Regions from separate parts of the Homo sapiens genome. Here region 2 is linked to region 1. Evidence: fine-mapped QTL for protein levels in blood plasma. A gene starts in region 1. The other region holds a variant in brackets. All regions are shown on one strand. Distances are between the middles of the regions.

Region 1 (5,385 bases):
CAAATCTTTGTATCATGGCCAGGCACGGTGGCTCACGCCTGTAATCCCAGCACTTTGGGAGGCCGAGGCAGGTAGATCACAAGGTCAGGAGATCAAGACCATCCTGGCTAACACAGTGAAACCTCATCTCTACTAAAAATACAAAACATTAGCCGGGCGTCATGGCGGGCGCCTGTAGTCCCAGCTACTCAGGAGGCTGAGGCAGGAGAATGGCATGAACCCGGGAGTCGGAGCTTGCAGTGAGCCGAGATCACGCCACTGCACTCTAACCTGGGTGACAGAGCGAGACACTGTCTCAGAAAAAAAAAAAAAAAAGAGAGAGAGAAAAAAGAAAAAGGAAAAAAAATCTTTGTATCACATGTTAATGCCTACTAGAAAGCATCCACCAAAGAAAAGGCACTAAATAACCAACAAAATGGCTCAACCAGTTTGGCTCAACAAAACGATTGAGCCAAAATGACTGAGTCTCAGTCATCAGCCACCCCACTGCTGGCACGATGGGCACAAGAATGAAGTGACCGTGGTAACAGAGATAGAGGCCACCCATGAGGCCAATAGCACAGACCCCGAGGCTTATCTAGCTCCCATCATTAACAAATGCCCAACCTGACAGCAGCTGACACTAATACTGTCCCCACAAGATGGCACAATTCCTCAAGGAGACCAACTAGTCACTTAGTGGCAAATTAATTACATCTGATTCTTTCACTCTTTGGAGGGTCAGTGGTCTATTCTTACAGGAATAGACATATTTGAGGTATGAGTGTGCCTTTCTTGCCTGCAGGGCCTCCATTAGCACCATAATCCAGAGAATTATAGAGTGCTTAATTATCTAGCAAAGATCACATCCTGCCAGACAAGGGTGCCCACTTTACAGCAAAGCAGGCCCAGGAGTGGGCCTGTGATCATGCAATCCCCTGGTCATATCACATACCACACCACTCAGAAGCTGGTGGACTTACAGAATGTTATAATGGGCTGCTGAGGACAGAGCTGAGGTGCCAGTTAAATGCAAAACTTTGTGAGAATGGGGTGCTATCCTCCAGGAAGCAGTATATACATTCAATCAAAGACTTTCATATAGCATTATGTTCCCAATAGGAAGAATACCTGGGTCTGGGAACCAAGGAATAAAGGCAAGAATTACCACACTTACCATCACCACCATTGACCAACTGGGGGCTTTGTGCATCTTGTCTCCACAGTTGTAGACTCTGCAGGGTTCGTTATCTTGGTCTCCAAAGGACTATACTTTCACCAGGGGCAAGCAAGAGTCCCATGGAATTATAAACCAGAGCTGTTGCCTGGGGTACGCTGGGCTCTTTGTGTCTAGGAACTAGCAAGAAAGAGTCAGAATCCACAAGGGTAATTGGCCCTGATCATTCCGAGGAAGTAGGGCTGCTATTACTATAATGTGGGCAGGGAGGAAGATGTGTAGAACCCACATAACCTACTGGGGTACCTCTTATTTTTTGCTTTTTTTGGTTTCTTTTTTAAGAGAGGGTCTCTCTTTGTCACTTAGGCTAGAGTGCAGTGGTGCAATCATGGCTAACTGCAGCCTCAACCTCTCCCTGTGTTGCCCAGGCTCATCTCAAACTCCTGGCCTCAAGCAATCCTCCTGCCTTGACCTCCCAAAGTGCTGGGATTACAGGAGTGAGCCACCATGTCCAGCCTGCCTCTTGTGACAGTAGGGATAAAAATGGCAACTTTTGCCTGAGAAACAAAAGGTAACCAGGGGCTCAGACCACTCCTGAAAGAGAGTGTGGGACATGTCATCCAGTAAGTCACCGAGACCAGCAGAGGTGGGAGGTCAAGGTAAAGGGAATCTAAAATGGATAGGAAGGGGGCCAAGGGTAAGTTTCAACTACAGCCCCAAGATCAACTGCAAGGGTAGGAGCTGTAGTTTTTCCCATTAACTTCCTCTTCTAAGTTTTCTCTCAAGAATAGGGACCCACTGAAATGTTTAAGGAGCCACTCCTGGAGTGTATATGGAACATAGATCTAAGAGGTGCAAGTATGTACTCTGAAAGACACAGAGATGAGTTTCCCAGAACCCTTGTCAAGGAAGGTCTTGCTACCTGGCTGTAAAGAGTGTAGTCAGAAGATACCTCCTCCTGATAGCACATAACTGTCAGATCCTTCTGTGTCTGCCTTAGCTACAGAAAACTGTCTCACCTAAGTGTATGCCCTTCCTGGGCAATATATAGTAGGGGACCAAGCAAGGCAGAATATAATGGCCCAGCCATTTATACTGAAATCAGGGGCACTGTGACAGGTCACACTCACTCCAGTTCAACTTCTACCTCTGTTCACCCCTGCTTCCCCTCCCTTCCTTGTATGGATATCGATCCCTAACAAACACTTGTGCCCCACACTCACTGTCTCAAGTCTGCTTCTGATGAACCCAACTGTGTCAGCATTTCTGCTATCACAGATTTATTTCATAAATAGATAAACCCTGCATGATAGTTGGTACTGGCACAAGAATACTTGTTTTTAAAATTTCTTGTACTCCAAAAATACAATTTGATCACAGCACAACAAATGCATGGTAAAGAAGCTGGTTTCTAGAGTTTTAAATGTATTTTGCAGCCTTCACTATATGGTCTACTTTTATTCTTACTGTCTCCTAGTCTTCAACCTTAAGTTTAAAAAATTATATTTTTACTGTACAAAAAAAAAACCAAAAAATTGCTTCCAATATAATTTCTGTCTTCCCTGGAATACAGAATTGAGTCATTGCAATTAACAGGGTGGGAGGAAATCAGTCTCTTCTGGTGGAAACAAGTTCCTATTGGTCACCTCCCTCAGCTCTTTAATGGGAAGGCCATTTTTTGGTTTCAGTTACGGTAAATCTCTCTGGATTTCAGCCAAATTCTTTCAGAGTTCAAAAGTACAAAGCTCTTTAGGAGGTTTGTTCTTTTGAAACATTTTTTCAGAGGTTAAAAATTAAATTTCAAAAGAATACCTGGAGTGGAAAAGAGTTCTCAGCAGAGACAAAGACCCCGAACACCTCCAACATGAAGCTTCTTCATGTTTTCCTGTTATTTCTGTGCTTCCACTTAAGGTTTTGCAAGGTAAGTAATTCAACCTTTATGCAAACAATTTTAATTGATAATTTAAAGGTTGTAAAAACATAGAAAATAATCTTAAATATATAATTTTGATTTAAATATTACATAGTTCAGTTACAACAATGCCACTCTATAGTCAGCAACAAATGTTTTATGTTAATATCTTGATAAAAGTGATTTTTTAAAAATAGTTCTTTTTATGTGCTTATATATGCAGAGGCATTGAACTGAACAAGAATTTTACTAATACAAGGCTGTGATTTACTGTAATTGTAGTAAATCAAAAATATTTACCAGGCTCCTCCTGTGTGTAAGGTACAGTGCTACGAAGACAGTGAGACTGATCTCTTCCTTCAACAGCCTCTTAGTACGCTCTATAGTTATAGAAAGGGGAAATAATAAGCAAATTTGAAACATCTGAAAACACAAAAGTGCAAGTTACAAGACAGTATATATTTAATTGTCAAAAGTGATACAAATATGTGGTAAAGGACTTCAATGAGAGGACAAATCACTTCATGCTGAGAGGTCATGAAGAGATTATAGATCAAGTAGGATTTGAGCTGAACGTTTAATTCTGTATTACATGTGATCAGTGGTGAGAAAGAGGAGTGATTTCCAGCTTCTTTAGCCAGGAAAAGCAGCAAGTGCTACCATAGGAAGGCAGCAATGCACTAGGCCCCTCCAAATAAATGAATCCATTTGATCAGAATGAAGGCTTTGTGGGCTACAAAGGAACTCGAAACTGAAATGACATATTTTATTGAAGTTAGAGTGTCATCTATTAAGGTGAAAAATGTTTAAAATATTTTGGATACTTATTGATGATTGCCAACTTTGGTGGCAATCCAAAACTATCTTGTCTTAGTGCCAGCTTGTAGAAGAAAATATTTAAAGAAAACTACTTAAGAAAACACACTTTAAGATTCTTGTAACTTCTAAAATAGTTGCCATCATTGCAATGTTTATAATAGAGAATAAATGGAAATAACTAAATGCTTATTAATAAGACACTGGTTAAATTATTGTATATCCAAAATTGAACTATTACATAGCCATTGAAATGACATATTTATCTAAATAAAAAGTCCTTACTACAATTTTATTTTTATTGAAGAAAAACACACACACACATATGTATGTGTGTTTATATGCATATATATAAATGCATACTTATACCTACTTATATATATGACTAAAAGATCTTACAGTGTATGTATCAAACAGTTAATAGTTGCTATCATTGGCTAATAAGATTACTGGTGATTCTATTTTCTGTTTTCGGTTTTACTGAACCTACTCAGACAAGGAAACTAGGGGATTCAGAAAAGATGGAAAAGAAACCCATAGCACAGTGGGAGTGGCTGCTGGGGCCTTCTAATGGGGGGAATAACCAGAGGATGTTCAACAACAAGGAAGCTGACTAGGTGTGGGGGTTCACGCATGTAATCCCAGTACTTTGGGAGGCTGAGGCAAGAGGATTGCTTGAGCCCAGGAGTTTGAGGCTGCGGGGAGCTCTGATCATGCCACTGTATTCCAGCCTGGGTGACACAGCAAGATCCTGTCTCAAAAAAAAAAAAAAAAAAAAAAAAAAAACAGAGAAGCCAAATATTTCAGTCAACATGATTACCTACCATAATTGTGCTGTGACGTAATCACCAACTGATACCCTAAATTTTATTTTACCCTAAAATTTTATTACAAACTCAGGCACATATGGGTGGCATTTTAGAGAGAAAGAACTGGGGTAATGTTAAGCAGAATGACAACATCCTGGAAACAAGGGTGGCACACAGGAGGGTGTGCAGTGCAAGTGATGGCAGCGGAAATGGCAGAGTAGGCAGATCCACCAAAACCAAAAACCAAAAATCCATTTCTACAGAAACCAAAGGGAAGCTGTCAGAACCAACTTTATTTAGAACTCTGGAAAACAGTCAAAGGTTTATAGCACCTAAGAAAATGTTGAATGCAGGAACAGGCAACTAAAAATGGTATGAAAGCTTAGTAGCATTTTGCGTGTCTGTCCTTTGTGTCCTTGCCCCATACCCTCCCTAATTTGGCAGTGGTCTTGAAGGATATCTGAGTACATAAAATAGCCTTAACACAATAACAACAAATTTTGGTTTATTAAAACAAGTTCACACATTGTCATTAAAAAGACATTTTGAAATTCACTGTATTCTCATTACCTTAGTTTGCAAATGTTAAAGCAATTTTCTTCTAAAAATACAAACTGTTTCTCTTACTATGCAGAATATTATCCTAATCACTTACCACACTTCTATCACCCTATCACTTATAATACTGTTGT
Region 2 (5,385 bases), 65 kb after region 1:
TAGCCTTTGCTCCCCCATTTCACAAGCATTCCTTGACCCTCTCTCTAAACCTATCCACAGATAATTCAATACAACCACCTACCTCCATGGTGTCAGACCTCACAGTCACTTCTGTTCTCATCGCAGCAGCATTAGCCCCTCAGGGCATCACACTCCTCCCTCACTGCTGTTCTCAGCCTCTTCCTTCTGGTTGCTTCTCTCACTTTGCCTTTCCCTGGTAATCTCATCTAGACTACGTTTTAAATCCTGCCTACAGTCCGGTGACTCACAAATCTGGATCTTCAGCTCTGACCTTTCCTAGAACCTCAGATTAGTATATGCCACTGAACACTAGTATATACCATTGCCATGTGAATATCTAGTAACATTTCAAAAGAAAAGTGGTCAACCCAAACTCAACAGTTGCACTTTCTTAACCTACAGAAAATAGCACCCCCACCCGACCCCAAGGCTATTGTAGGTGCCCAGTCTCCCTCTGTCACACCACCTACTTTAATCTCAGCATAGTACTTTTCTTCCCCCAGTGTATTCTGTTTTGATTGGGTTGTCTACCTCTTCTCAACACTGTCTCCTCCAACTACAACATAAGACACATGACAAGAGAGACCTCATTTGTCTTCCTTCTGGCTACATCCCTACCACTTGCCTCATAGAGGCTGCTCAGTGAATAAACATTAGCTACTCTTTTTTTTTTTTTTAAGCACAGCTATCTTTATCCTGAAGACAGACATATATGTTTCACATAAATATTCCCTTTATTATTTTATTTAGGGCCAGTCTTGGATAGATCCCTACTGATTTAATAATATAAATACCCATTTTTACATATATTCCAAAATCAGTTACTGCCCAGATTTTCTTTTAAAAATTGTGGTAAAATATGTATAACATAAAAGTAACAATTTTAACTATTTGTAAGTGTAAAGTTGAGTGACATTAAATACATGCCCATTGTTGTACAATCATTATCACCATCCATCTGCAGAAAATTTTCATCTCCCCAAATTGAAACTTCATATCTATTAAACAATAACTCACCACTCCTCCCTCCCATGCTGCCCAGATTTTTCATCCATTAAATTCAGGAAAGTATTTGGTTATTTATTGCTGGGAAGTTCCCCTTCCAGTCTCTCATGCTGTTGCCGTCAGACAGGATTGGACCAGAGTTATCACGAAGGCTTATTCACTCATGTGTTTGGTGCCTGGGCTGGGCGGACTTAGACAGCTGGGGCTTCTCAGATATGTCTCTCTGCACTCTCCCCATGGGCTCTTAACATGGCAGGGCCGGGGGCACCAGACTTCCTACATAGCAGCCGATGAGCCTCCCAAGAGAAACTGCAGAACCTGCATGGCCTTCTCTAACCCAGCTTTGGAAGTCCCTTAGCATCACAAAGACCTGCCCAGGCTCAAAGGAAAGGAAATAACCCATCTCTTGATGGCGGCAGGGAGGAGGTGTATCAAAGAATTTATGGACATATTTGAAAACCACCTTGTCCTGACTCAGCAATCCGGGAGCAACGCAGCACCTTAGAATATGTCTGTGTATGAGATAAAAAGAGAAAAGTGGCTGGGCGCAGTGGATCATACCTGTAATCTCAGCACTTTGGGAGACCAAAGTTGGTGGATCATTTGAGGTCAGAAGTTTGAGACCAGCCTGGGCAACATAGCAAGACCCCATCTCTATCACACACAAAAAAAGCTGGGAGTGGTGGTGCACATCTGCAGCCCCTGCTACTTGGAAGGCTGAGGTGGGAGGATCATTTGAGCCCAGGAGGTTGAGGATGCAGTGAGCTGTGATTGCAGCACTGCACTCCAGCCTGGGTGACAGATCAAGACCTCGTCTTAAAAAAAAAAAAAAAAAAAAGAAAAGTACTCCAGTGCTACAAGGTGGGAAACCCAGCATATAGGGCATCCTCAGCCAATCTAGGAAGGGGGCCCCCAAAAGGGCCAAGCCAGTCTGCACAGTGACCTAGCATCTGGCAGCTTCACAGAAAAGTAGACCAGGGTCAAGCCTTGAAGGGTGAAAGTCAGCCCTCTGAAGCGACTCTATGTGACAGAGACCAGG[A/G]ACAGCAGGAGTGAGATGACCTGACTCCAAGCTTCTCCTAGTTTAGAGGTCTGTCTCAGCGCTCCTAATTCCAGACTACAGAAGCCAATCTAACTGGTTTAATGAAAAAATAGATTTATTCAAAGATATTATGCAGTTCACAGAATTTCCAAAAGAGCCAGAGAATTGGAGTCTACACATCTGGAAATAACGCTCACAGACCACACTGCAGGACTGCTCCATCAGAGACTACCATGGCCACTAGCATGGGTCCCAGTCTCCACGTACAGCTTGTACTGCAGAGCCTGGGCACTGGACATTGCTGCTTCTGTGAGCTCGCCTGAAGGTGGCCAGGGACACAACTCATTGGATGTGGAGCTCTGCCATCGTCTTATATTTAACCCTGGTTTCAGAGCTCTCTGTCTTACAAGAGAAATGGGAAAATAAATTATGCGGCTGCACCTTGCCAGGTACAATGGTAAGGAAAACTAAAGGGAGATCTAGAAACCAGCCTGACATATTAAAGAGGGCTTCTGCAGAGGTGAGCTTAGTCTGAATTATGGAAGAACTTTCCAGGCAGATACAAATGCAAAGGCCCTGCAGTGTGAGGAGCTAACCACACACAAGGATGGAGAGCAGTTCATAGTGACTGGAGCCCAGGGTGCAGCTAAGGAGCTGGAGAGGGGGAAAGGCCATACCAGGGAGAGCCTCATACCAAAGAGTTTGGACCATTAAAGGATTCTAGGAAGTTCAAGCTGGAGACAGCAAGGAAGATGTATTGGAAGTGGGTGAGAGAGGGTATGGAAGATGGTTAAGACACTCTTGGAGTAATCAAATGAAAAATAATGAAGGTAGAAACTAAAGCAGGGATAAAAAGGATGGCACTGACTCTAGATATGTTGAGTGAAATAGATGGCATTTGGGGACAAATAGATTACAGTACTAGGGAGAGGGATTTGAGACTAGGATAATTCCCAGTCTCTTAGATGGTGAGGTGATTGGTGTTGCCACTGAGTACAGAAAGGAAGGAAGTAGAGGAATGGAATCAGATTTAGACAGTTAGGGATATTTTGAAGTTGTGATGTCTAAGGAAGCCCAGTGAAGGTGTACAGTACGTGATAGGAAATACGAAGCTGAAAATCAACCAGAGGTTTGGAAGTAGCCAGGAACCCTAATTAGAAGAACTACATACGGACTCTGTCCTGATGGCTTAAAACCCTGCAGTCTCAACTAAGTGGGTTCTTTCCATCCCTCCTGTGTGCCAAGCAATCTTACATTGTGCATACAAAGATACCTTGAAAATATCTTTTTGATCAAATTTTCTTGATGGTAGACCCCCCACCATACCCAAGCAGAGGATCATTGTCTTCAACATATTATGGAACAAGCCCATGCTCATAGATCTGGTGCAGCCATCTCTTGCCCTTCACTTTGTCCCAGCTTGAAAGCTATTAATGCCATTGACTTTCTAGCCAAAGGCTGGAACCTAGTACTTATTTCTCTTTAACTTAAGTTCCCTTTTAGAGATGAAACTTCTAGCCTTGGTGCGGTGGGAAATTAAAGAAATAAAGAAAAATAAAATTAAAAAGAGAAAGAAGTAAGCTTTCCTGTATTAGGCTGACTCATCCCAAAGGCAGTAGCAGGCAAGGCCCAGACCCAGGAAAAAGAGTCTTGATAAACACTATCTAAGAAGCTAGGACACAAAGGAATGTGCTCTGGAGACTCTCCCAGCACTCCCTCAACATAAGGAGAAGAAAAACAAATTTTCCTTTCTCTTATAGTATGAGTTTATAGATTTCTGTTCTCTGTAACTAGCAACTTCAAGCATTCTGTTTTATCTAAGTAGTGGAGTGAAGGTCATAAACTGTCTGAGCAGGCCTGAGATACAGCCACCTGGACGCCATAGTGAAGGTCATGGAATAAGCTGTGCTAGGCACTAAAGGAAAACCTAGATAACTGACATCTGGGTTGCACAGCAACGGTCATGTGTAATCCTGAGTTATGAACCTGTCACAATTTGATTAATTGCTCTGCCTCTGTATCCTTGCTTTCACACCACTGTAACTGTAAGCCTGCTTCAAGCTAGCCCACTCCCTTTTTGAAGTGTGTATAAAAGTCAAGTGCTGTCTTTGTTCTAGGCCCAGTTTTCCAGATGTAAGTCTGAGTACACTCAATAAAGATCCTCCTGCTTTACCCCGAAGTCTCTCTCATCCGCCTGATTCCCGCGACATTGGCACTAGCCATAGATTAATCATTATGGATGGAATTGCTTCACCATGTGGCTTTTATTTTCATCCTGGACAAAAATTAACCATTATGGCTGGAACTGTTTTCACCACGTGGCTTTTATTTTCATCACAACACTGCTGAGGCCATTAGTGAGACATTGGAAAATACTAAAAAATAGAAATTGCTGTTTATCATTAATATTTTATTGATTTTTGTTATTTAAAATAACACAAAGCATTGTGTAATATTGTAGTTTCCAAGCATTCTAAGTTAATGTGGTACGTTAAACCCCACAAATTTTGCATTCTCATCTCATCAATACTACCATGTTTTTCCATGATGCTCATATATATAGAAGAAACCATTTGGTGTTTCTAGAAGAGATCTGAGATCTGACTGCCTATCCTGATTATTGTTCTGGGAAGTTCTATATAGAAAATATAGTGTAGGGCTGGGTGCGGTGGCTCATGACTGTAATTCCAGCACTTTGGGAGGCCAAAGCAGGAGGATCACTTGAGCCCAAGAATTCAAGACCAGCCTGGGCAACACAGGGAGACCCCATCTCTATAATAACAATAACAAAAATTAGCCAGTCACAGTTGTGTACACCTGTATTCCTAGCTACTCAGGAGGCTGAAGTAGGAGGATTGCTTAAGCCCAAGAGTTCGAGGGTACAGTGAGCTATGATCATGCTACCCCCACCTGGGTGACAGAATGAGACTCTGTCTCTGAAAAAAGAAAAGAAAAGAAAGCCAGTCTTGGCCACCCAGAATCTCCCATTCCAAGGTATTTATTAATATATCATTCAGACAAGAATAAGCACAAATATAGTATATTTTATATTTTCATAATTTATTTTGATATTCACTGTAATTGCATTTCTTTTCTTTTCTTTTTTCTTAGACAGACTGTTGCTCTGTTGCCCAGGCTGGAGTGCAGTGGCACGATCTCAGCTCACTGCAACCTCCACCTCCTAGGTTCAAGCAATTCTCCTGCCTCAGCCTCCCGAGTAGCTGGGATTACAGGCACCTGCCACCACGCCCAGGTAATTTTTTTGTATTTTTAGTAGAGACAGGATTTCACCATATTGGCCAGGCTGGTCTCGAACTCCT

Direction of the effects. Alleles are on the strand shown, and positions count from the first base shown. The strength of an association depends on the size of the effect and on how common the allele is.
As copies of A replace G in region 2, the plasma level of the protein whose gene starts at base 2,993 in region 1 goes down (moderate association).

The links. PIP is the chance, under the fine-mapping model, that this variant and not a neighbour inherited with it causes the effect. The UK Biobank Pharma Proteomics Project read protein levels with antibody pairs (Olink). The fine-mapping took linkage between variants from a reference panel, not from the people measured, so its PIPs are less certain.
Region 2: its variant is fine-mapped to the plasma level of the CFI protein (UK Biobank, PIP above 0.99).

The regions. Positions count from the first base shown.
Region 1 is chr4:109,799,607-109,804,991 of GRCh38, reverse strand. CFI (complement factor I) reads left to right here and starts at 2,993. Exons shown (of 13, transcript NM_000204.5): 1 at 2,993-3,077. The coding sequence starts at 3,021. It overlaps LOC124900757 (a long non-coding RNA gene), which reads right to left and starts at 1,320. Exons shown (of 2, transcript XR_007058226.1): 1 at 1,157-1,320.
Region 2 is chr4:109,734,592-109,739,976 of GRCh38, reverse strand. It overlaps a transcript of CFI not described here. Among named protein-coding and RNA genes, the nearest start is that of PLA2G12A, 7.2 kb to the right of the region's middle. The variant A/G (reference allele first, on the strand shown) is at 2,066.